Homo sapiens: one gene and its partners. The protein of the gene in region 2 purifies or fractionates together with the protein of the main gene of each other region. This does not show direct contact. Each region holds a gene or a part of one and is shown on either strand. Other genes may lie near its edges.

The links.
Region 1: the proteins of FOXP4 (region 2) and NFAT5 purify together in Homo sapiens (affinity purification with mass spectrometry, with the first as the bait; one study listed by BioGRID). This does not show direct contact.
Region 3: the proteins of FOXP4 (region 2) and UBA7 purify together in Homo sapiens (affinity purification with mass spectrometry; one large-scale study listed by BioGRID and IntAct). This does not show direct contact.
Region 4: the proteins of FOXP4 (region 2) and TOX purify together in Homo sapiens (affinity purification with mass spectrometry, with the first as the bait; one study listed by BioGRID). This does not show direct contact.
Region 5: the proteins of FOXP4 (region 2) and ZMYM3 purify together in Homo sapiens (affinity purification with mass spectrometry; one large-scale study listed by BioGRID and IntAct). This does not show direct contact.
Region 6: the proteins of FOXP4 (region 2) and TFDP1 purify together in Homo sapiens (affinity purification with mass spectrometry, with the first as the bait; one study listed by BioGRID). This does not show direct contact.
Region 7: the proteins of FOXP4 (region 2) and ZNF687 purify together in Homo sapiens (affinity purification with mass spectrometry, with the first as the bait; one study listed by BioGRID). This does not show direct contact.

Annotation. Positions count from the first base shown.
Region 1 is NC_000016.10:69,568,966-69,572,465, forward strand, and holds part of NFAT5 (nuclear factor of activated T-cells 5), read left to right. Parts: intron 1-3,500. UniProt on the Homo sapiens protein: Transcription factor involved, among others, in the transcriptional regulation of osmoprotective and inflammatory genes. Binds the DNA consensus sequence 5'-[ACT][AG]TGGAAA[CAT]A[TA][ATC][CA][ATG][GT][GAC][CG][CT]-3'.
Region 2 is NC_000006.12:41,552,881-41,556,380, forward strand, and holds part of FOXP4 (forkhead box protein P4), read left to right. Parts: intron 1-3,500. UniProt on the Homo sapiens protein: Transcriptional repressor that represses lung-specific expression.
Region 3 is NC_000003.12:49,807,832-49,810,953, reverse strand, and holds part of UBA7 (ubiquitin-like modifier-activating enzyme 7), read left to right. Parts: intron 1-121; coding exon 122-202; intron 203-281; coding exon 282-437; intron 438-525; coding exon 526-691; intron 692-770; coding exon 771-976; intron 977-1,074; coding exon 1,075-1,139; intron 1,140-1,228; coding exon 1,229-1,412; intron 1,413-1,489; coding exon 1,490-1,564; intron 1,565-1,794; coding exon 1,795-1,978; intron 1,979-2,485; coding exon 2,486-2,568; intron 2,569-2,841; coding exon 2,842-2,934; intron 2,935-3,026; coding exon 3,027-3,122. UniProt on the Homo sapiens protein: E1-activating enzyme that catalyzes the covalent conjugation of the ubiquitin-like protein product of ISG15 to additional interferon stimulated proteins (ISGs) as well as other cellular proteins such as P53 in a process termed protein ISGylation.
Region 4 is NC_000008.11:59,116,348-59,120,404, reverse strand, and holds the start of TOX (thymocyte selection-associated high mobility group box protein TOX), read left to right. Parts: upstream 1-1,257; 5' UTR 1,258-1,417; coding exon 1,418-1,519; intron 1,520-4,057. UniProt on the Homo sapiens protein: Transcriptional regulator with a major role in neural stem cell commitment and corticogenesis as well as in lymphoid cell development and lymphoid tissue organogenesis.
Region 5 is NC_000023.11:71,241,633-71,244,140, reverse strand, and holds part of ZMYM3 (zinc finger MYM-type protein 3), read left to right. Parts: intron 1-160; coding exon 161-312; intron 313-1,056; coding exon 1,057-1,171; intron 1,172-1,716; coding exon 1,717-1,971; intron 1,972-2,508. UniProt on the Homo sapiens protein: Plays a role in the regulation of cell morphology and cytoskeletal organization.
Region 6 is NC_000013.11:113,639,363-113,641,973, forward strand, and holds the end of TFDP1 (transcription factor Dp-1), read left to right. Parts: intron 1-757; coding exon 758-905; 3' UTR 906-2,111; downstream 2,112-2,611. UniProt on the Homo sapiens protein: Can stimulate E2F-dependent transcription.
Region 7 is NC_000001.11:151,288,799-151,292,298, forward strand, and holds the end of ZNF687 (zinc finger protein 687), read left to right. Parts: intron 1-296; coding exon 297-473; intron 474-579; coding exon 580-742; intron 743-879; coding exon 880-1,209; intron 1,210-1,323; coding exon 1,324-1,436; intron 1,437-1,633; coding exon 1,634-1,775; intron 1,776-1,916; coding exon 1,917-2,411; 3' UTR 2,412-3,378; downstream 3,379-3,500. UniProt on the Homo sapiens protein: May be involved in transcriptional regulation.

The DNA of each region.
Region 1 (3,500 bases), on a different chromosome or scaffold from region 2:
ATTATTTATTGCAAAAGCATTGATGCCATTGTTATTGCATTATACTTAAGGGTAAGGAAAGCCAAGTAATAGCGATGATGATTGAGCTATGCTTAGAAGAAAGGGGTTTAGAAAGTTCTGGAAATGTTAATAGAGTCTGTAGATTAGTTTAAACAGCTTACACTTACTTTAGAAAACTTTTGGCTTTGTGTGTGTGTGTGTTTTAACATTTTAAGACATAAAATAGTCTTGTGTTTTTGTAGATTTTGAAGTGATTTCACATATATCATCTTTAAATCTTTATAATTTTGGAATTGGACAGCAAAGGTACTAATTTCCCCATTGTAGAGAAGAGAAACTAAGGCTGAAATTAAGAAACCAAAAAAAAAAAAAAGTCCCACAGTAGAAGAAATAATACTTTCTGCGTTTCAGTTAGTGCTCTTTATGCAAAGCGGCCACCGTGAAATACACATGTAACCAGTAACAAACATTTTATGGTCTACTTTAAAAAGGCCCTAAATATTTAAGTTTGACTTGAGAAGATTTTTGCCTCCCTTGGAGGTAGTCCGGGATAGTGGGGGGCAAGTGGGTTTTGTAGTTGAGCTTAAATTTGAATACCAACTTAGCTCCTTATTAGTTCTGTGACTTCGGGCAAGTGATTTTACCTCTCTAAACTTTAATATTCTTCCTGTTAAAATGTAGCTGTCTCTTAAATTTAGTGAGCTAATGTGTATTAAATTGCCTAGCATAGCGTCTAGCTTAATAAATGTTAGTTTTTTCCTTTAGTATCAGCTAAATTTTTTTAACAGTATAATTTAGAGCATATAAAATGTTCTCAAATAAATAATTGGTTAAATTTGTTTTGTACGTGTAAGAAGCCCATAGATATACATTAGTATGAAAATCAAATATTTTTAAAACTACAATTTGAAGTGAGAAATTTTTAGCAGTGTTTCTTAGTGAAGCAGATTTCTGGTTTTTATTCATATTCAATTTGTGACCATGTTGTAGAGACATATTTGTCTGTACAAACCCATCTCATTTCCTGGACAACAAACCATAGAGTGTCATAATCATAGAGATGATCAGGGAGGAGAAAGACATGAAGAAAAAAATGAGTGTTAATTATTTAAGCAAATATTTTTAGTGAGCTGATGGAAATACAGACAACCATTTAGCATGTTTATTTACATGTTTATGCCTAAATACTTTCGTTAATTTTTCATTTTAGTTAAGGGGATTCTCATTTAAAGTAAGGCTACCCTTTTAGAAATTATATATAAAATATAACATGTATAAGTATCAATTCTGTCATGCCCTTTAAAATGTTTTGAGACAGGGTGTCTTAAAAAAGTTGTTTGCTTCTGTAATGAAGTGTCTAATCTGTGCCACCTCATTGCTATTTCTTTTTTATTATTGACATTTTAAAGAATACATAAAAGTAGAGAGAATAAAATAAGCCCCATATACCCATCACCACAGTTTAACCAGTATCTAATCTTGCTTCTTTTATCCCTTCTTCTCTCTCAAGCTGGATTATTTTAAAACAAATATCAAACATCAGATCACTTCATACATAAGTATTTCTGTATTACAGTGACTTTCTTATATTAATTATTATTGATATAATTTAATTGTTAATATAATTATTGTATTAATTTTTAATTACTCTGTATAGTTTATAAACTATTTCTTGGAATATTCTAGTTTATTTCAGCAAAGTCTCTTGTGACTCTCCTGCCCTCTTTTCAAGACAGAGTGCTGCAGGAGGCTACCGCTTCTAGTATATAGTATATCCTATAACCTATGTTGAAATTGTAGGCCATGCTGCTAGATTGGAGTTCATATTGTTGCTCTGACATTTACTTGTATGGCCTTAGCCTAATAATTTAATCTTTTTTGCTTCAATTTTCTCATCTTTAAACGGGAGCAATAATAGTGCCTCATCCTAGGTTTTTGTGAAGATTATTTGAGGCAAATTCGTGTAAAGCATTTAATTTAGCACATGCTAAGTGCTCAGTAAATGTTAGCTAAAGTTAAAAAATTTTTAAAAACTAAATGCTAGCTGTAGAGTGTTTACTGTGTGCCAAGAACTTTACAAATAAGAACTCCTGAGGTGGGCATATCACTTGAGGTCAGGAGTTTGAGACCAGCCTGGCTAACATGGTGAAACCCCATCTCTACTAAAAAAAAAAAAAAAAAAAAAAAAAAAAGCCAGGCATGGTGGCATACACCTGTAATACCAACTACTCGCGATGCTGAGGCAGGAGAATCCCTTGAATCTGGGAGACAGAGGTTGTGGTGAGCCAAGATCACTCTACTGAACTCCAGCCTGGGTGACAGAGTGAGACTCTGTCTCAAAAAAACAACAACAAACAAACAAACAAACAAAATAAGAACTCAGCGAATTCTCCTGACTACCCTTTGAGATGGTTATTATTATCCTACTTTAGAGATGAGCAATTGAAGGCATAACTCACCCAGAGTCACAAGCTAGTAAATTGTAGAACCAGAATTCCAACCCAGGTAGTCTCACTTTAGCCTAGCCTCTTGACTACTGTGCTGTACTAACTCCCAATGGTATATACTATCAAGTTCTGTCTAGTAATATTTATGTATGCATGTTTTACATCAGTAGTCTAGATTTTCATCTATAAATAGTATTTAAAAACTTGGCCCAGAGTGAGGGGAATTTAAGTAATTGGTGTGATATAATTTAATTTTTTTATAGAACGTACGTTTTCCAAATTTAAATTTTTTTTTTGGGGGGAAACAAGGTTGGAAAACCTGCACTTGGGTATTATTATTATTATTTATTATTATTATTTTTTTGAGATGGAGTCTTTGCTCTGTCGCCCAGGTTGGAGTGCAGTGGCACGATCTCGGCTCACTGCAAGCTCCACCTCCTGGGTTCACGCCATTCTCCTGCCTCAGCCTCCTGAGTAGCTGGGACTACAGGCGACTGCCACCACGCCCGGCTAATTTTTTTTGGATTTTTTAGTAGAAACAGGGTTTCACCATATTAGCCAGGATGGTCTCGATCTCCTGATCTCGTGATCCGCCTGCGTCAGCCTCCCAAAGTGCTGGGATTACAGGCGTGAGCCACCGCACCTGGCCTGCGCTTGGGTATTATTAAACTTTAGAAGTAGATTCAAAATGTCTACTATTCAACTGAGTTTGCATTTAACCTTCCTATCAAAACAGTGCTAGTCTTTCTTGCAACCTCTTTTTAAATTTAATACGATGATTGCCTGACAATGGGAAAAGGGTCCTGGCTAATTAATTAATGTTATAATACATGGCCATTAAATGATGTTTCTGGTAACCCCATAATTAACATGTGACACTCTTAATAAAATAAGTAAATAAAAATTATGCTGTTACAATTATATTCAAAGTAACTTGTGTTACAAAAATCCTGAACAAAAGTATACATCACTGATTTTCTATTTTTCAATTCTATTTTTGTATTTTCCATCTTTAAAGAACATGGTTTATATATTTTTTTTAAATAAAATTGT
Region 2 (3,500 bases):
CCACTGCTGCCAACTTCCTAACTCACTCTTCGGCCTTAGGCATGACCCGTCTTCTCTCTGGGCCTCAGTTTTCCTAACTGTACAGTGGGTGAAGAGGACACCTGCAGCCCCACATCCTCGGGCTCACCATCCTGAAGCTGTGGGTTGGGAGCCAGGCAAGAAGAGACCTGAAGGTCTCAACGTACACCCTCTTTGTTCCAAGGGCATCGGGAGCCTACTTCCATGGGTCCTTCTTGAAAGGGGTGCTGTGGAGCTCGGGGCAGAGGACACTATGACCCATGCAAGTCTCCTCCTTCCCAATTAGGCAGTGGAGCCTGATTAAAAGGGGTGCTGCCTGCCCCCTCCCACCCGATCCCCATCGACGAGATTTCCCTTCATCAGAATCTCACATTCTCCAGAAATTAATTTGATGCCTCATGTTATCAATTAATTGAATCTCGTTGGGAGAGAGAGCTCCGCGAGGTGAGGCGAGCTTCAGCTTGGCCCTTGTGTGCCGCCATCCCCCCTCCCCCTCACACCAGGGCAGCCTTCTCCTCCCCCATTCCTTTTTTTCTGCCTTTCTTTTAATTGCACTTATTTTCTAAAATAAAACCACTGCTCTGTGCCCCTTTGCCCAGTTTGGCTTGGATGGATACCCATGGACTGGGTACTGGCTGGGATTTGCCCTTTCAGAGGTGGGGGCAGGAGGACTTCCCCTCCCCTGGACCCTGTCTGATCTCTCCTTAAGTAAACAGAATCTCACCCTTTGGGAATTTGGCCGTGATCCTGTGTGCTCCAGGGGCTTCTGGTGAGAAACTTAGGAGGACTAGGGGAGGGAGGAAGAGCTGGGAACAGACTGCACCCTAGTTGGGGACAGAGGAGGTAGAGAAGGACCAAGCTAGGGACCTTTTAACCCTCAGGATTTTGTCATTCAGAAGCTGCTGCCCCTGCCAGAACTGATCCATTAAAACACAGGGCAGAGGGCATAGGTGTGTGGTACCTCCAAGCCTCCCAACAGTCAGGTCAGATATCTGCAGGAACAAGCCCTCAGCATTTTCAAGGACACTTGGAAGCCCTTGCTCTGCCCCCTGCATGGAAGATGGGGGAAGGAAGTTCTAATAGGACATCCCTATTAGGAAACCTGGGAGGTTGTTGTGGCAGGTAGAGCTAGGTAGTCACCAGGCCCTGACTGAGGAACTGTGCTTTGCCGTTTCACATACCTCCTTGTTCTTATCCCCACAACAACCCTGAAAGATTCTCCAGGCAGTGGTAATTATCACTCTCATTTGATAGGTGAAGTACCCAGGCCCAGAGAGGTTACCTGACTTGCCCCGAGTCACAGTTAACTGGAACTTGCCTTTCTGAAATGCTGGCCATAAGGGCTGAGGTCACAAGTGGACTAACTTCATCCCTGCTGAGTTTTGTTGACCCACACACAGTTCATTACAATGGTAAATTTCACATAAATATCCCCACTTCTGCTCCTTTTGAAAAACCCAAGCCCTGTCAACACTGAGCCTGCATTTCTGTGTGGAAAGGATGGACTGGGATTGAGTGGCAGCTGCCTCCTCGTGCCCTCCTCACCTGGCCTCCTAAGTGACCAGCCTAGCCCCTGAAGGCATTTTGGTTAGCAGCTTTGACATGGAGATTCACCTGTCCCCAGTATTCCTCAAGGAGAATCTAGTGTGGGACAGTGTCTGAAGGACTCTGCAGGGTCTAGCCAGGCACAGTGGCTCATGCCTGTAGTCCCAGCACTTTGGGAGGCCAAGGCAGGTGAATCACCTGAGGTCAGTGGTTCAAGACCATCCTGGCCAACATGGCGAAACCCCATCTCTACTAAAAATACAAAAGTTAGCCGGGCGTGGTGGCAGGCACCTGTAGTCCCAGCTACTCAGGAGGCTGAGGCAGGAGAATTGCTTGAACCCGGGAGGCGGAGGTTGCAGTGAGCCGAGATTGTGCCACTGCACTCTAGCCTGGGCGACAGAATGAGACTCTGCCTCCAAAAAAAAAAAAGACTGCAGGGTCTGTACAAGAAGATCTCAGAGAGAGGACCTATAAGGACACCCTGACCCAAATCTAATTCCCACACAGCTACTTAATAACTGATGGTGGGATGGGCGCAGTGGCTCATGCCTGTAATCCCAGCACTTGGGAGGCCAAAGTGGGAGGATCAGTTGAGCTCAGTTTGAGACCAGCCTGGGCAATATGGTGAAACCCCCTCTCTACAAAAAATACAAAAATTAGGGTGTGGTGGCATGTGACTGTAGTCCCAGCTACTCGGGAGGCTGAGACCAGAGGATCACTTAAGCCAAGGAGGAAAGGTTGCAGTGAGTGAGCCGAGATCGCGCTACTGCACTCCAGTCTGAGCGACACAGAGTGAGACCCTGTCTCAAAAAAAAAAAGAACTGATGGTTGTGGGTGATTCTTTTTGCCTTCTTTCTACCACAGAGGTTAGGTCTTTGTACCATAAGGCCTTGTGTCTCCGGGGGCCTGTTTCAAGATGAAATCAGCGCATCCCTGCCAGGGTGAGCCCCTCTATGATAAAGTCATCACTTGCCCCCTACATCTGAGGAAATGAAGGGAGGGGCCAAGGCATGTCGGGGCAGGCTGGGCAGAACAGCCAGGGGCCCAGAAATGGCCATACTCAGTGGTTTGTCCCAGGCCCTCTAGAGCCCCTCCTGTGCCCAAAGGAAACCCTGGTGCCAAAGGCACCACCAGAACCAGGCTCCAGATGGCCATTCAGGCCCTGGGCGAATTGCCCCTACCCCTTAACCAGCAGGCCCCCCACATAAGACGTCACTATTTAATTAGCCGTCTCTGATTAACCAAACTTGGCATTCGGCTCCTCTTGCCCTCATCTTTCCCAGCTCCGAATCAATGGCTTTGATATGCTAATTAGGGAGTAATTTAATTTCAAAAGGCCGCAATTAACAAGGGTGTTGTGGACATGCTGTAGTTAAGCGGAGTAATCTAATTTGCATTAGTAACAAGCAGGGACTAATTAGAAGCTTAATTAGACACTTAGATGGCTCTTATGTTTACTTTCTTAATGAGATGGAGTGGGATCTTTGGTTCTCTTTCTTTTTTTCCCCCTGTATTGTTAATTCTTTTTTTTGGTCTGTGTAGTAGGAAGGGGTATTGAGGGAGGCCACCTTGCCAGGGCCTGTGGGAGCGTTTCAGGGATGGAGCCAGTAAAAGGTAAGGTGGAGGGTGGTGGTAGGGGTAAGGGAAGGCTTGGATTCCAGAGTGACTCGGGGAGTTAGGACGCGGGGAGGAGCACTGGTTTAGGAGTCAGGAGAGCCACCTGGTTTCAGTTTGGCTCAGTCACTTAGCAGTCAGGTAACCTTGTCAAGTCTTTGGCATCTTTGAAGTGTGGTTCCATCCTCTGTCAAAATGAGCGCAAAATTGCATGGGGGAGAGAGGAGGGAGGGGCTATAGGAAAGCACTCTTGGGGACTCTGTGAATGTTTTTTTTTTTTTTTTGAAATGGAGTCTCGCTCTGTTGCCCAGGCTGGAGTGCAG
Region 3 (3,122 bases), on a different chromosome or scaffold from region 2:
GTCCAAAATCAGGACTAGGGGAGAAGCATGAGGAATGCCCTCCAGGTCCTGATTCAGAAAACTCAGTATAAGAAGGAGATGCAGGCCAGTAGCCATCACTGACCCCGTCTCTGTCCCCTAGAGAGGCAGCCGCTATGATGGGCAAATTGCAGTGTTTGGGGCTGGTTTTCAGGAGAAACTGAGACGCCAGCACTACCTCCTGGTGAGCTGTGGGGTGAGACTGGGGGTGCCTTTGGGAGAGCCAGCCCAGCCCCTCTGGCTAAGGCTGTTCCTGCCAACAGGTGGGCGCTGGTGCCATTGGTTGTGAGCTGCTCAAAGTCTTTGCCCTAGTGGGACTGGGGGCCGGGAACAGCGGGGGCTTGACTGTTGTTGACATGGACCACATAGAGCGCTCCAATCTCAGCCGTCAGTTCCTCTTCAGGTCCCAGGACGTTGGTGTGAGTGCTGACCCCTCTCCACACTCCTGCATCCCAGACCGTCCTCCCATACAGCTTCCCACCCAACATCTTCCTGCCTTCTTCCCAGAGACCCAAGGCAGAGGTGGCTGCAGCAGCTGCCCGGGGCCTGAACCCAGACTTACAGGTGATCCCGCTCACCTACCCACTGGATCCCACCACAGAGCACATCTATGGGGATAACTTTTTCTCCCGTGTGGATGGTGTGGCTGCTGCCCTGGACAGTTTCCAGGCCCGTGAGTGCTTGACTTCGGAGGTCAGTCCCTTGCCCACAGCTGTGCCAGTCCCACTTCTGACCCACTGCTCCCTTGCCAGGGCGCTATGTGGCTGCTCGTTGCACCCACTATCTGAAGCCACTGCTGGAGGCAGGCACATCGGGCACCTGGGGCAGTGCTACAGTATTCATGCCACATGTGACTGAGGCCTACAGAGCCCCTGCCTCAGCTGCAGCTTCTGAGGATGCCCCCTACCCTGTCTGTACCGTGCGGTACTTCCCTAGCACAGCCGAGCACACCCTGCAGGTAGGAAGCACCCTGGAGACTCCCACCCCACCCAGCTCAGCCCTCAGCTGCAGACCTGTTCTCCACCTGATACCTCATTCTTCCTCCCTCCTCCACAGTGGGCCCGGCATGAGTTTGAAGAACTCTTCCGACTGTCTGCAGAGACCATCAACCACCACCAACAGTAAGGCCACCAACAGAGGCAGATGGGAGTCCAGGGCTCCAAGCATGAGTCTGCAGGACTCAGTCTCACACTTCCTCCTCTCTCTGCAGGGCACACACTTCCCTGGCAGACATGGATGAGCCACAGACACTCACCTTACTGAAGCCAGTGCTTGGGGTCCTGAGAGTGCGTCCACAGAACTGGCAAGACTGTGTGGCGTGGGCTCTTGGCCACTGGAAACTCTGCTTTCATTATGGCATCAAACAGCTGCTGAGGCACTTCCCACCTAATAAAGTGTGTGGCTAGGGGTTGGGACGCTGGGGGCTCAGGGGGACCAGACTGAGCCCAGCAGCTTCTACTTACCTACCTAGGTGCTTGAGGATGGAACTCCCTTCTGGTCAGGTCCCAAACAGTGTCCCCAGCCCTTGGAGTTTGACACCAACCAAGTGAGTGGGATTCTGTAGGGAGCTCCAAGATAGAGATGTGGCCCCTCAGAGCAGAGGTAGGCATTTCTGCATTCTGCAGAGATGCACAGATGCCCAGAGAGAGCCATGCTTGTGCATATATGGGTGTCTACATGTGAGGCAAAGGCAGGCACTCAAACAGATCCACAAATGGACAGTGACCCCCACCCCATGCACCCATGCCTCTGTTCCTGCTCTTGGTCTGGCTGCAGGACACACACCTCCTCTACGTACTGGCAGCTGCCAACCTGTATGCCCAGATGCATGGGCTGCCTGGCTCACAGGACTGGACTGCACTCAGGGAGCTGCTGAAGCTGCTGCCACAGCCTGACCCCCAACAGATGGCCCCCATCTTTGCTAGTAATCTAGAGCTGGCTTCGGCTTCTGCTGAGTTTGGTGAGGCTCCTGGCCCTGGCCCCTCATGCTGTCTTTCAAAGGCCTGAACCTGTCCTGTCCTCAGCCTGTGCTGCAGAAGGAAGATAGGGCCTAGGGGATCTACAGCCAATTTGCTACCTCTCAGGCCTCCTAACCTCACTCCTCCATAGTTTCAGGCTTATCCTCTGGTCCCTCAGTAGGTCTTCTCCCTGCTGCCTACCCCACATCCCAGTTCTTGTGGCAGATTCTTGGCAAAATAAATAAGTAAATAAATAAAGTCCATTGGTTCCTGGGGAGTGTCTAGCTATGGCCTGCAGGTGAGGACAGGGTCACAGAGGTCATGAGCACACATGGGTGAAGACTGGGGCTTCTAGAGGGGAGATTGTAGCATTAATTAAGGGGGCTTCTTGATTTGATCAGGGAATAGTAAGTGACAGGCTTGGCAAAGACCAAGAATAGGCACAGGGCTCCAAGAAGAGTGCAGGAGACAGGGGCTAAGGACTGCCTCAACATCCCCTCCCCTGACAGGCCCTGAGCAGCAGAAGGAACTGAACAAAGCCCTGGAAGTCTGGAGTGTGGGCCCTCCCCTGAAGCCTCTGATGTTTGAGAAGGTGGGTGCCCAAGTGGCAGTGAGGAGTGGGGCTGGGGAGTTTGTGGAGAAAGGTCAGGAGCTAATAAGGTAGTTTTGGAGCCCCTTGGCCTGAATTCTCCCAGCAAGACCCTGGAAGCAGCTCACATTCCCTGAACCTCAGCCTGTCTGATCAAGAGGAGATGTGGGGCAACCCCCCGACAGAACTGTGTGGAGACTTGTGCAGTGACACGCAGTGGGCCACGGTGAGGGGCACAGCTGCAGTGTTAACACTACTTTGACTTGGGCCTTACAGGATGATGACAGCAACTTCCATGTGGACTTTGTGGTAGCGGCAGCTAGCCTGAGATGTCAGAACTACGGGATTCCACCGGTCAACCGTGCCCAGGTAACCCCACCCCTTGAGGCTTGGGCCTGGAGGTGGAGGGCAAACCCTGGCCCTACGCCTTGGGCCCAGACCAAATCTCTTGTCCTTGGCAGAGCAAGCGAATTGTGGGCCAGATTATCCCAGCCATTGCCACCACTACAGCAGCTGTGGCAGGCCTGTTGGGCCTGGAGCTGTATAAGGTGGTGAGT
Region 4 (4,057 bases), on a different chromosome or scaffold from region 2:
CGACCGGAGAAATGGGGAGGCGGACTCCAGGTCTTTCGTGGACTGCCAAGAGCCCTATAGGGCGTCCAGCTATAAAAAGAGAAGAATCCCATGAAGGACAACAAGCAAACTCATATGTTATCCCTTTAGCCGGATTGTGTGCTGATGATTGTTTCCCTATTTACACTTCGAATCACCCCTGTGGTCTTTTGTGAGTCCCCAAGGCAGCCTCAGCCTTCGCAAACCGTCCAGTGGGGCACGAATCTCGGAGGGGTGCGGGCTGCAGGCGGCAGAGGGAAGCCAAAGAGGGGCGGCTTTTCCAGGCCGTCCACCCCCAGGCGAGCTGGTCCTCACCCTTCGATCGGCTCGAGTCCCTCGGACAGTTGCCCACTCACAGCGTGCAAAGGGGTCGCACTCCCTGTGGGTTCTCCGCCCTCAGAAGCGGCGCTGCGCAGGAAAGTCACCTCCACTACGGGCCGGGAGTAGGGAGGGGAGCACAGTGACAGGGTTGGGGAACAGCCGAGGAGGAGTGGGGGTCGCGGAGATAGGGGTGGGGACGGCCGCGGAGAGGGCGGTGGGAGTGGGGTGGGGCCGGGGAGGGCCGGGGGCGGGGCTGCGGGGCGGGGTGCGCCACAGCGCCCCCTAGCTGCGCGCTCCCCACGGTGCCCTGAGGCCGCTGGTGGCTCTGGCTCGGCAGCCCCTTTGTGTGCGACGCGCTGGTCCCGAGGAGCGCGGCACGGGCACAGCGGAGGCCTCCCAGGGTCCCACCGCTTCTGTCCCAGCCAGGCCGTGCTCTCCTCCTTCTCCTTCTCCGCTCCTCCTTTCTCCGGTCCCCGGCCTCTGGTTCCGAACAGCAGCCATTGGGCCTTGACGAGCCCGCGTCCGGCCGCGCTCCCTACCCCGCCCGGCCCGGGACGCTCGCCCCCCTCCCGCCCTGTCCCTTCTGGATCCCCGCCCCACCCCCCCACCCCCCACATCCCGGGCCTCCAAGGTGGAGAAAATAAACTACAAGCAGAACAACTCAGAATCTCCAATAAAACGCCCAGTACCTAGAGCCCGAGCGCGTGTGCCGGGCTGCGAGGGGCGCGGGAGGCGGGGATGGGGGGGCGGGCGGGGGGGACAATGAGCGCATGAAGTTACCTGCCCGGCGGCGGCGGCAGCGGCGGCGGCGGGACCAAGAGGCGGCGGTGGAGCAGGCTGCGCGCTCGGCGCCGACGGGTGCGCGCCGCGGCTTGGGGGAGAGTTGAGCGCTTTTCCCCCCTCTTTTTTTTTTTTTTCCTCTTCTTCTTAAACAAACCACAAACGGATGTGAGGGAAGGAAGGTGTTTCTTTTACTCCTGAGCCCAGACACCTCACTCTGTTCCGTCTAAGCTTGTTTTGCTGAACACTTTTTTTTAAAAAAGGAAAAAGAAAAGGAGTTGCTTGATGTGAGAGTGAAATGGACGTAAGATTTTATCCACCTCCAGCCCAGCCCGCCGCTGCGCCCGACGCTCCCTGTCTGGGACCTTCTCCCTGCCTGGACCCCTACTATTGCAACAAGGTGAACGCTCTGCTTTTGTTTCCACCGTGTTCTTGCTGCTTGATCCTGGGAGGGGAGCGGCGGTGGCCGGGCCGCGGCGGGGCCGGCTTGGCGGAGGCCGGTCCCGGGCGCGCTCGGCTCGCAGCCCGCTGCAGCCTGCGTGCGCTTGGGTAGTAAATATTGTGGAGTAGCTCCGGGGGCTTGCCAAACACCGCGATTGTGCGGAAAGTGACACGATTTGCTCGGATTCTTTCCTTCCTGCTGTTCGCGGCTAAGGATCCCTGCCTAGGTTTGCCGGGGGGCGTTTAAAAAAATAATAAGAGAAAACCGTGGAATACTTTGGGGGTGTGTCTGGGGTCCAGGAACGGAGGCAGAGTAAGAGAATTCAGTTTATTTCCCAGTTCCCCCTTCTCTCTCCCTCCCTCCCCGGGCAGTGGGGGCTCGTGGCACCACTTCCCTTCTCCGGATTAGTTGCCAGGGGAGCAGCCGGGAGTCGGGGTGCAGGGACCTGGGAGGCGCCCCTGCCCCCCACAGGGAAAACTGCCCCACAACTCTTTTGTTTTCTCAAACCGGTTCCGGCAGCCGAGCCCGGGTTCGGACACAGGTCCGCGGGCCAGAGCACAGCGGGGTAGCTGGGTCAAGGTTTGGGGAACAGTTCCTGTTTAAGGGGTGCGCGCGGAAATTGCAAGTTTGTTGGGAGCCGGGCGAGCACGTCGCGTTCAAGTCCAAAGCTCCCGCACTCGCGGAGCAGGGTCCGCGGCTGAGCTGTACCCACGGCCCGCTGACCTCGGGTGCCAGGGCCGCGGGGGCCCGGGGAGAGGCGGATCATGCCGGTGACCCGGAGGTGGGGCGCTGGCCTGGGCTGCTGCGGAGTTCGGCTGGGTCCACCTATAGGACAGTCAGGGGGTACGAGGGAGGGGGTTACTCTCCCGGCTTCTCGAACTCTCTCATCCCAGAGAGGGAGGACACGCAGGGACCGGTCCCCCAGAGTGGTCGCAGGGGCACGACTGCCCACGCCTAGGGCTAGTTGGACGTGTCTAAGCAGTCCCGTTGGATGAACGTTGGCAGAGAGAATTGAGTTCTCTAAAACGCTGGGCGGGCCTTTTAGACGCCCAACTCTCGCTTGGTGATAAATCTGCCTGATACTCACAGCCCCTGCAGGCACATCCATGGCGACCCTCGGTGCATTCCACGGGAAAAATCGTTGGGACTCCCAACATTTGCCTGGTGGCGAGTCATCACCAAACGGCTTTTTTACCTGATACAGAGATATTTAGTGCGCTGCCTTCTCAGCCCTGGACTCCGCACCACGCGACCGAGTCGCAGCTCCGAGTCTTGGACAGTGTTGACACACAGGCAGGCTCTCACACACACACTTCCCCGTGGAGAAGCTCCTCGATGCTGTGTCCAGTGTGAGACCCACTCAAAGGACTGTGCTGTGTGCCGATGGTGTTTAGGCAAGTTAGAAAAGAGGGACATCCAGTCTTGAGCAAGGCAGAAGGGCTTCCATTGTACAGGGAGCCCTTCAGCTACGGGCAAGTTGAAAGGTACGGGGAACTTTGGCAAGCGCATAGGAGTTTGTGTGATGAAGTTTCATTATTTGCTGGTGACATAGTTCTTTTAGTCTAAAATCTGTTTTGTCTGTACACTCAAGTATTGTGTTACGTTTTATTTTGCTTATGACACCAATACTATTGCTAATAAAAAATAATAAAGTTGCAGCCCTATCTTGGAGAGTAAAGACTTATTCCACTGTAGTTACCGGAACCAAAAGCTCAGAACTATTTTGGCAATGAGACTGGACAAATCTTATTAAGTTTATCAGTGATTTTAGGCCCCAAAAAGAAGTTAATGACTTGGATACACATTTCACTCCTCGTTCTTGTGATAAGTAGGGTCAGATTTAATTTAAAAGTTAAATGCTTTGGAAAATCAGGAATTACTTCAATATATTAAATCATTTTCCAATTAAGTGCTTTAAATAATTTTAGTGGGTTGTGCTGTGAATTGAATAAATTAATTTAGAAAGTATTCAGAATTTCTTTACTAGCTCATTGAAGTTCCTTTTAAGTCACCCCGTGTATAAGAAGCAAACTGTTCTTTTTAAATGCAAATTAGGCACCCTTTCTGTAGACTAGTTGCGAGTCTTCTATTTAACTTATCCAGAGAATAATAGATTTTTTAAAATCCAAAGTCATAAGACATGTTTCTAATAGTGGAAGAAGACTTCATGGAAATGTTTCTCCAGGGACATCTCTGGCCCATCTCTGTGTAGCAGTCCATCAGATATATTTGTCACTGGTCCCGATTATATTAAATGTACTGGATAGTTTTCTAGGCCCCACAAATCCCAGGCACTTGAGTTTTTTCACTCCACCATGATTAGCATTGGTACAAAATTTCTGTCCAGCTCCACAATTGTAGTTGTGCATAATGCAGTCAACTAGCATTTGTTTTTGCAATGACATGAGTGGATTTGCAGGGAAATGGAAGAAGGACAGAAGTTTGGAAAAGGTGAAGTAAGAAATCTGTGCCTACATTTATTAAAACAAGTTGGAT
Region 5 (2,508 bases), on a different chromosome or scaffold from region 2:
AAGGGAAATGCTGTCTAGGTTCCAGGTTAGGGGCTCTTTCTGTAATTGTTCAGGAGCTAGGCATGACTAAGGGATGGAGGGGTTAATGGTGATGGAGCTAAGTGAAATTCTCCATGTAGAGTTTTTCTTAATCCTGTCCCTGCACAACATATCACTGCAGCCAAACCCATGCGTATCAAAGAGGATATTCTCGCCTGCTCAGCTGCTGAGCTCAACTACGGTCTGGCCCAGTTTGTGAGAGAAATCACTCGGCCCAATGGTGAACGATATGAACCTGACAGTATCTACTATTTGTGTCTTGGCATCCAGCAGGTACCTCTTGTGCACCACCTCACTTCCTGTCACTCTTAACACAGCAGGCAGGGTCTAAACAGAAATGATTCTGGGTTAGGCACGGTGGCTCACGCCTGTAATCCCAACACTTTGGGAGGCTGAGGCAGGAGGATCGCTTCAAGCCAGGAGTTTGAGACCAGCCTGGGCAACAAAGTGATACCCATCTACCCAAAAAATATTTTTTTAATGAAAAAAAAAAGCAGTTATTCTGTTGCACTCCCTGTTCCTCATCTTGTCCCCTACCTGAAGCAGGCAGCTTGCCTTTAATCTCCTACTCCAAATAGAACATGAGATATCAATACTCTTCTAAAATCAAAACTGCATTCCAGGACCGTTGGCCAAGGAGCAGTCTTCATTGCTATCCAGGTCCCCTTTGTAATCTTTAAGCCCATTCTAGGAGGGGAGGGATGGGTGGAGCTGGGATCCTTGAGTGCTGGGGTAATGTTTAGTTCCCCCTGGGAGAAGTCAACCATGTATTACCTGAGAAGGAGGTGTGGGCTTCTAAAGAACATCTCCTCCAAGCCTCCTCCTCTTCGAGCAAAGCCTGAGTAGCGCAGAGCTGTGGGTATACCTGGGGGAAAGCACTCGAGGCCACCTAATCAAGCAACTGTTTCCCATCGTCTCCTAATGATCAAGGACACCATACCTGGGGGCTTCAGCATCATTATCTTTCTTCTAGGACCTACAGTCTAGCCTTAGGTGTGTCTGTTTTTCTTTCCCCAGTACTTGCTGGAAAATAACCGGATGGTGAACATTTTCACGGACCTTTACTACCTGACTTTTGTTCAAGAACTCAACAAGTCTCTGAGTACCTGGCAGCCCACACTCCTCCCCAACAGTAAGGAACAGGGACGTAGCAACCCCTACCCGCTTTCTCCATTCTTCCAATCCACCATCCCGAGAGTCCTGTGCTGTTTGGTCTGCCACTCTTCACAAAGGGCCCGAGGGCAGGAGCGTGTAGCTGGATGCCTCAGGGTTTAGAGTTAAAGGAGCACAGGAGCGCCTGTTCTTGAACGTGAGATGGGGATCAAGACTTAGGTCTGAAGAGCTATCTCTAGGACCAGAAAAAGATGGCCTGGGTTTGGGTGGTAAGTAAAGAAAGAAAGCAAGAAATCGTGGGACTCCTCAAGGTTTACATTTACTTGTCTACAACTTGAGGGTGGTGAGAGGCGTTCCAAATGCAGGTGTGGAAAGTATATATTTTTTAAAGCCCAGTCCCACTGTGTAGTGTAGCAAGTGTAGCGAAGTGACAGTGTTTTATATACAAAGGTTACTCACCAAATGAGAATTGTGTGGGAAATGAGCAGGGCACATGGGATGGGAAGTGGTTGGGTTTGGGTAGCCACTCCCTCCTGACTGGCCTCTCCCCCTTGACCATTGTAGATACGGTGTTCTCTCGAGTGGAGGAGGAGCACCTCTGGGAGTGTAAGCAACTGGGGGTCTACTCGCCCTTTGTCCTCCTCAACACCCTCATGTTCTTCAACACTAAGTTTTTTGGGCTGCAGACAGCTGAGGAACACATGCAACTCTCCTTCACCAATGTGGTGCGGCAGTCCCGCAAGTGTACCACCCCTCGGGGCACCACCAAGGTGGTGAGCATCCGCTACTATGCCCCAGTCCGCCAGAGGAAAGGGCGAGGTACGAGGCTGCCCCCTCCCCTGTGCTTTTGCCCCTTCTCTGCCTTCCCCTTCCATGCCCTGCCATAACCCACCATACCTGCCAGGTCGGCCCTCTCCTTGGCGCCTAGCTTCCCTCTCCTGTTCCTGTGTGCAGAAAGGGTAGAAACAGCCAGTCCTCCTACCTGATAGGCAGTAGCTGTTGCATAAATAAGAGGTCACCCTCTGGCCTGTTTCCCCTCTTTCCTCATTTAAGACAGTTTACTTGCTTGCCTGCTTTTTCTGGGTGGTGGACAGGTAGGAAACCATTGGGTGTGTTTGGCTGTCGGGGAGGGTAGAATGACAGGCTTTCTGTGATTCTTTGCTATCGGGTCTAACAACAACTGCACCTTGGTTTCCATTTTTTCTGTCCCTGGACTTCTGTCCTGTCTGAGTGAAGTTTCCAAGGTCCTTTCTCTGGACCCATGCTTCTACCTGGACTAATGCACAAGGGGTTGGGGTCATTGCTGTTTCTCTATCCCAGAAGGCAAGCCCACCCTTGCAGTAGGGTCTGTTTTAT
Region 6 (2,611 bases), on a different chromosome or scaffold from region 2:
TTTCATAGTGGCATGATGAGACATTTTATACAAGTACCTCATGAAAGGACATCTAGGTAGTTCCCAGTTAGAATAAAAACTGCAGTGAGCAGCTTTACAGCTGAATTTCTCGCCATTTCTGACTTGTTTCCAAGATACAGAATTACTTCATCAAAAGGCACATTAACACATTTTTATTGTAGTGTTAATAAATACCATTAAAATGTATTAAAATATGTACATATGGTTTTATGTTAATTGAAAACATCTTTAAACATTAGGAACGTAGTGAGCTCTGGTTGGTGGTAGGTTTTTGTGGTGCTGCCAGCCCTCTGGGTTCTCAGTCCCCGCTGCCAGATTCGACCCACGCTCTGGACTCCATCCTGTCCTGCCCCGGGCTCTCTTTTTTCCTGTTGCTGGTTATGAGTGAAAGTCCCGGAGGGAGGGATCTAATGGTTTTACAGTTTGTTCCCTCTGGGGCACTGCTCCTGATGGAATGATGAGTGAGGGAGAGGCAGCGTGTGGCTCTGCTCAGCCTCCTGTTTCTGTCGTTATGGGTTCCAGGAGACAGGGCCAGAAGAGAACCAGACAGAGATGGAGTAAGTGCCAGAGCGTTGGCGTGCTGTAGTGCAGACACTCAGCCTCCCCGTTCTGTTTGTGTGACTGACAAAACCCACACCTGTGGGGCACAGCCTGTCATTTGACCACAAGCCCTGAGGCGGGGGGAGGCTGGGTGGGCCGCCTGCACTGACGGCGCCATCCGCCTCCTGCCTTGCAGTGACCTGACCAACGGTGCAGATGGGATGCTGGCCACAAGCTCCAATGGGTCTCAGTACAGCGGCTCCAGGGTGGAGACTCCGGTGTCCTACGTCGGGGAGGACGACGAGGAGGACGATGACTTCAACGAGAATGACGAGGACGACTGACGTCCTCCCCACTTCAGATTCGGCTTCAGGAAAACGTTTAGCGAAAAGAAACTTTTTTTTTAATGTGGGTTTTCTGTTTCCTTTTGGCCTACTCCCAAGAAGATATTGGTAAGCTATTGAATTTAGATATGCACCTCTGATAAGCAAGGATTGTTTCCCGTAGGATTAGGACGTGCTGTGGATGTGTGTTTTGATACCAGTGTGCTGATGCAGAGCGTTTATTTACTTGTTAGGATTTTGTGTTTTCATTTGCTATTTTTCTTTAAGTGCAGAGTTCATTTTTGCCCCTGAAAAGTTTTTGCTGAGTTTGCTGAAGAAATTGTATTTCAACCACATCCATGAAAATAAAACACCTCCTGTTGTGGATGGTGAGCCCCTGATGCCGCTTATTTGCCGTGAGTTTGGACGGCACCCCTGCTGGCGGATAGCAAGACTCTGTGGAGTTTGTTCAGTGGTACGGTGTCCAAGCAAACAGCAGAATGCAACTTTCTAAACAGCCCCAAGCAAACAGCAGAATTCAACTTTTTAAACAATAAACACCATCAACCTTATTGACTTTATTGTCCCTTAAATTATATTGACTGTTGTGATTCCATCAAGTTTGTACACTCTTTTCTCTCCCTGTTTTGCAGCAACAAATTGCGAAGTGCTTTTGTTTGTTTGTTTTCGTTTGGTTAAAGCTTATTGCCATGCTGGTGCGGCTATGGAGACTGTCTGGAAGGCTTGGAATGGTTTATTGCTTATGGTAAAATTTGCCTGATTTCTTACAGGCAGCGTTTGGAAACCTTTTATTATATAGTTGTTTACATACTTATAAGTCTATCATTTAAAGACATGTACTGAAACAAATGTATTTGTTTCATAAGCATCTTCCTGTAATCTATTATAAAATTGAAATTAAATATAGAGAATGTTTTAACAATTTTTTAACTCAAAATTTGTCAATCATTTTTAATAGTTCTTTTTTTATAAAAAGAAAAAGGAATTTAAGGACAGGCAGTAGTCTCTTTTAAAATTTATTCACAAAACCCATTAACTGCACAGTTGCTATTAGCTGCCTGTTCTAAAACGATAGTCTTTTTATTGAAACACAAATAAACTTTTCTGTAATATTTTATGGTATATAAAGAGACTTTAATTGTTTGACTTGTTTAACTTGGCACTGTTAGTTTTTATTAATAAAACGCGCATGGGCATTTTAAACAAGCTGTGTTTCTCTAATTCAGGATTATTATCTAGAAATTTGTCTGTCTTGTTGGTTTTACTTTATACTTGAGTGAGAAAGTAGGTTGTTAGGCCCAGACGCGGTGGGCCCGGGTGGTCCCTGTGGGTGCAAACCCCACCACCACATGTTGTCTGAGGCACATCCTCCGGGAGCCCACCCTGAAAAGGTGGAAGGTGGCCAAGGGTGGAGGTCTTGGTGGACACAGGGCAAAGAGGCACCTTCCTTTTCGGTGCCTGTGGTGCAGAGAAAGATAAGCCAAGTTCCTTGGCCTTTTTTCACAATGAAAATTGAGACAAAATTTAAAAGTTTGACTTTGAGAACAAGAATAAGATTGAGAGGATTCTGGGAAGATGGTGGAATAGGGAGCACCAGGAATCTGGCTGCCCAGGTAGATGTCTACCTCGCGGGCAGGATCTGCCTGATGCAGCTGTTCTGTAACTACGGAATCTACTGAAGGCTTAAAGCTTTCAAGGGAGGCTTG
Region 7 (3,500 bases), on a different chromosome or scaffold from region 2:
TATATCCCTCAGCCCTGTTGTTTTGCCAGACTCAACCCTGAGATAGTACGTCCTGCCTTCCCGTCGTCCCCCATGGAGATGGGGGGAAGCAGGGCCACCTCTGGAGCTCCAGCTCTCCCTTGGCAGCCTCCCTTGGGGCACAGCCTCTGCACCTCTCTCCTTTCTCCACCCTGCTCATGCTCCACTACTGATTTCCTTCTTGTAGTCTACCCAGTCCCAGAGAATAAATGTATGGTCCCGGGGTGGGCATGGAGATGCCTCCCACCTCACCACAGGGCCTCCTGCTTCCTCCCTAGGTGCCCCAGCTGTTCAGTGGTGTTTGGGGGTGTGAACTCCATCAAGTCCCACATCCAGACGTCGCACTGCGAGGTTTTCCACAAGTGCCCCATCTGCCCCATGGCCTTCAAGTCTGGGCCAAGTGCCCATGCCCACCTCTACTCCCAGCATCCCAGCTTCCAAACTCAGCAGGCCAAGTGAGGCCCGGGGGAGGGCCGGGCTGGGCCAGGGAGGGCTGGTGGGGCGCAGGAGGGGAGGGGCTGCACCCAACCCTGCCTGATGTCTGCACTGTCCTCACTTCAGGCTGATCTACAAGTGCGCCATGTGCGACACAGTCTTCACTCACAAACCCCTCCTCTCCTCACACTTCGACCAGCACTTGCTGCCCCAGCGTGTCAGTGTCTTTAAGTGCCCGTCTTGTCCTCTGCTCTTTGCCCAAAAAAGGACCATGCTGGAACATCTCAAGGTACAGGAGCAGAGGGATGGGGAATGGGTGCTTAGCTGTACTGACCTGGGGCTGGGGCCACATACTTCAGAAGTGGGGGGCTTTGGCATAGCCAGGCCCTCCCCCACAACAGCAACCTCCCTTGTCTCCTCTCACAGAACACCCATCAGTCTGGGCGCTTGGAGGAGACTGCTGGGAAAGGGGCCGGGGGTGCCCTGCTGACCCCCAAGACTGAGCCTGAGGAGCTGGCTGTTTCTCAGGGAGGGGCAGCCCCTGCTACTGAGGAGTCGTCTTCATCTTCAGAAGAGGAGGAAGTACCCAGCTCCCCTGAGCCCCCCCGTCCAGCCAAACGGCCTCGGCGGGAACTAGGGAGCAAAGGCCTCAAGGGTGGGGGTGGGGGGCCTGGAGGCTGGACCTGTGGCCTGTGTCACTCCTGGTTCCCTGAGCGTGATGAATACGTGGCCCACATGAAGAAGGAGCATGGCAAGGTGAGTGGGCCCCAAGGGGAGTACCATGGGCTGGGGGCAGCATTGGGACTGCCAGTGTGACAGTGGGGACGGGGTCCTGGAGCCTGGCTCTGACATCTACCCCTGCTCTCCTAGTCAGTGAAAAAGTTCCCCTGTCGCCTGTGTGAGCGCTCCTTCTGCTCCGCCCCCAGCCTGAGGCGCCATGTCAGAGTTAATCACGAGGGCATCAAGCGAGTTTACCCCTGCAGGTAAGTCTTGCTCCCCGCTTCCTCTTCCTGCCCAGCACGTGACTCTCCCTGTATGCCAAAGTACCTGTGCACCTGCGACGTGTCTAAGTGGCCTGATGGTTGGGGTCTCCCTCTGCTCTGGCAGCCCCCTCCTCAGAAGCAAGGGCCCTGGCCTTCGGGCTGTGCCGCTGCTGCCATCCTGTCCTCTCCCATTTCAGGTATTGCACAGAGGGAAAACGCACCTTCAGCAGCCGCCTGATCCTAGAGAAACATGTCCAGGTCCGGCACGGCTTGCAGCTTGGGGCCCAGTCCCCTGGCCGGGGGACCACCTTGGCTCGGGGTTCCAGTGCCAGAGCCCAGGTAGGCAGAGGCCCGGCCTGCTGTGCTAGGGCTTTGAGTGGGAAACTGGAAGGCAGAGACCATGGCCTCAGGAAGCGAGCATGGGGGTGCCAGGGACAGTAGGGGTGGTGGTAAGGCCCAGTTTCTTCCACTTTTCTTCAGGGGCCAGGTCGGAAACGCCGCCAGTCTTCTGACTCTTGCAGTGAGGAGCCTGACAGCACGACACCGCCAGCCAAGTCCCCCAGGGGCGGACCTGGATCTGGAGGCCATGGCCCTCTGCGCTACCGGAGCAGCAGCTCCACAGAACAGAGCCTCATGATGGGGTTGAGGGTGGAGGATGGTGCCCAGCAGTGCCTCGACTGTGGCTTGTGCTTTGCCTCCCCTGGCTCCCTGAGCCGACACCGTTTCATCAGCCACAAGAAGAGACGGGGTGTGGGTAAAGCCAGTGCCCTGGGGCTGGGGGATGGGGAGGAAGAGGCCCCTCCATCAAGGTCTGACCCCGATGGTGGAGACTCACCCCTGCCTGCTTCTGGAGGCCCACTGACCTGTAAGGTCTGTGGCAAGAGCTGCGACAGCCCTCTAAACCTCAAGACCCACTTCCGCACGCATGGCATGGCGTTCATCAGGGCTCGGCAGGGGGCTGTTGGGGACAACTAGTCTCCAAGGCCTGGGACTGACCAGCCCCTTCCTCTTGGAGCCTGGTTTTCCCTACTGCTGCCTGATCCCTCGGCTGGGGAGTTTTCATTAACATTAATATTTTGTTAATTCCTGTCTCTCCAACCTGAAGAAGAAGAGCATTTGAGGATTATTCTAGTTATTTGCAACCTCCCTTTGGGTTTGGCCCTGGAGTCCTAGTAGAGTGGACCCTCCATTCCTCCTTTCTGAGCCCAACACTAATTAATTTTATGCTCCTGCTGCAGAACCCCCAGTGTGGGCCTGGGGGTGGGAGGATGGGACTTAGGTATGCCTGCTAGACAGGTTCAGGGAAGGACTGATGGGGGTGTCATGGATGGACACACCTCTCCACAATTCCTTCAGGCATGGACTGGAACTTTCCTCCTCTAGGCCGGGCCCTGCCCTAGTGCCCACCCCCGCCCCCGCCCCCGCCCAACCCCAACTCACTGGCACTCAAGCCCCCTACCCCTGCAGTGCCTTTCACTTCTTTTTTTCCCCAGAAATCCGGGGCGGGGGGGTGGGGGGTTGGTAGGGATGAGTCCTGTCAAGGGGGCCACAGGAGAGGAGGGGACAGGCTCTCAGGAATCCTTTATTCTTGTAGTAATAATAATACTAACAAACAGTTGGGGAACTAGGGAGAAAACCAGACCATTAAAACTGTTTGTGGTCGAATCTCCATTCAGGCCTCTCTTTTTCTGTGACTTGGACAATGTGGAGTTGAAGCGGGTGAGAGAACATGGAAGGCCCGCCCTTCTCAGGGAAGAGGTGGTAGTGACCAAGACAGGCAGGGAAAAAGCAAACTTCTATGTAGTGCCTTTTGTATCTTGGACACTGAGGCATCCGTTCATACCTCATCACCCATCTCCCCCTGCACTCCCCCAGAAAACCTGGAAATGACACAAGTGGCTAACTAAGGACTTTATTTCAAACAAAAATTAAAAATAAAAAATTGAGAGCTCTTTTCCCTGGGTTTGGGGAAGGAGTCAGGGTAGGGAATTCCACATGGCTAGGCCAGTACCCTCAGTACACTGGAGGGCTGTGGGAATTCCCTTCCTTGCCCATGATGGGGAA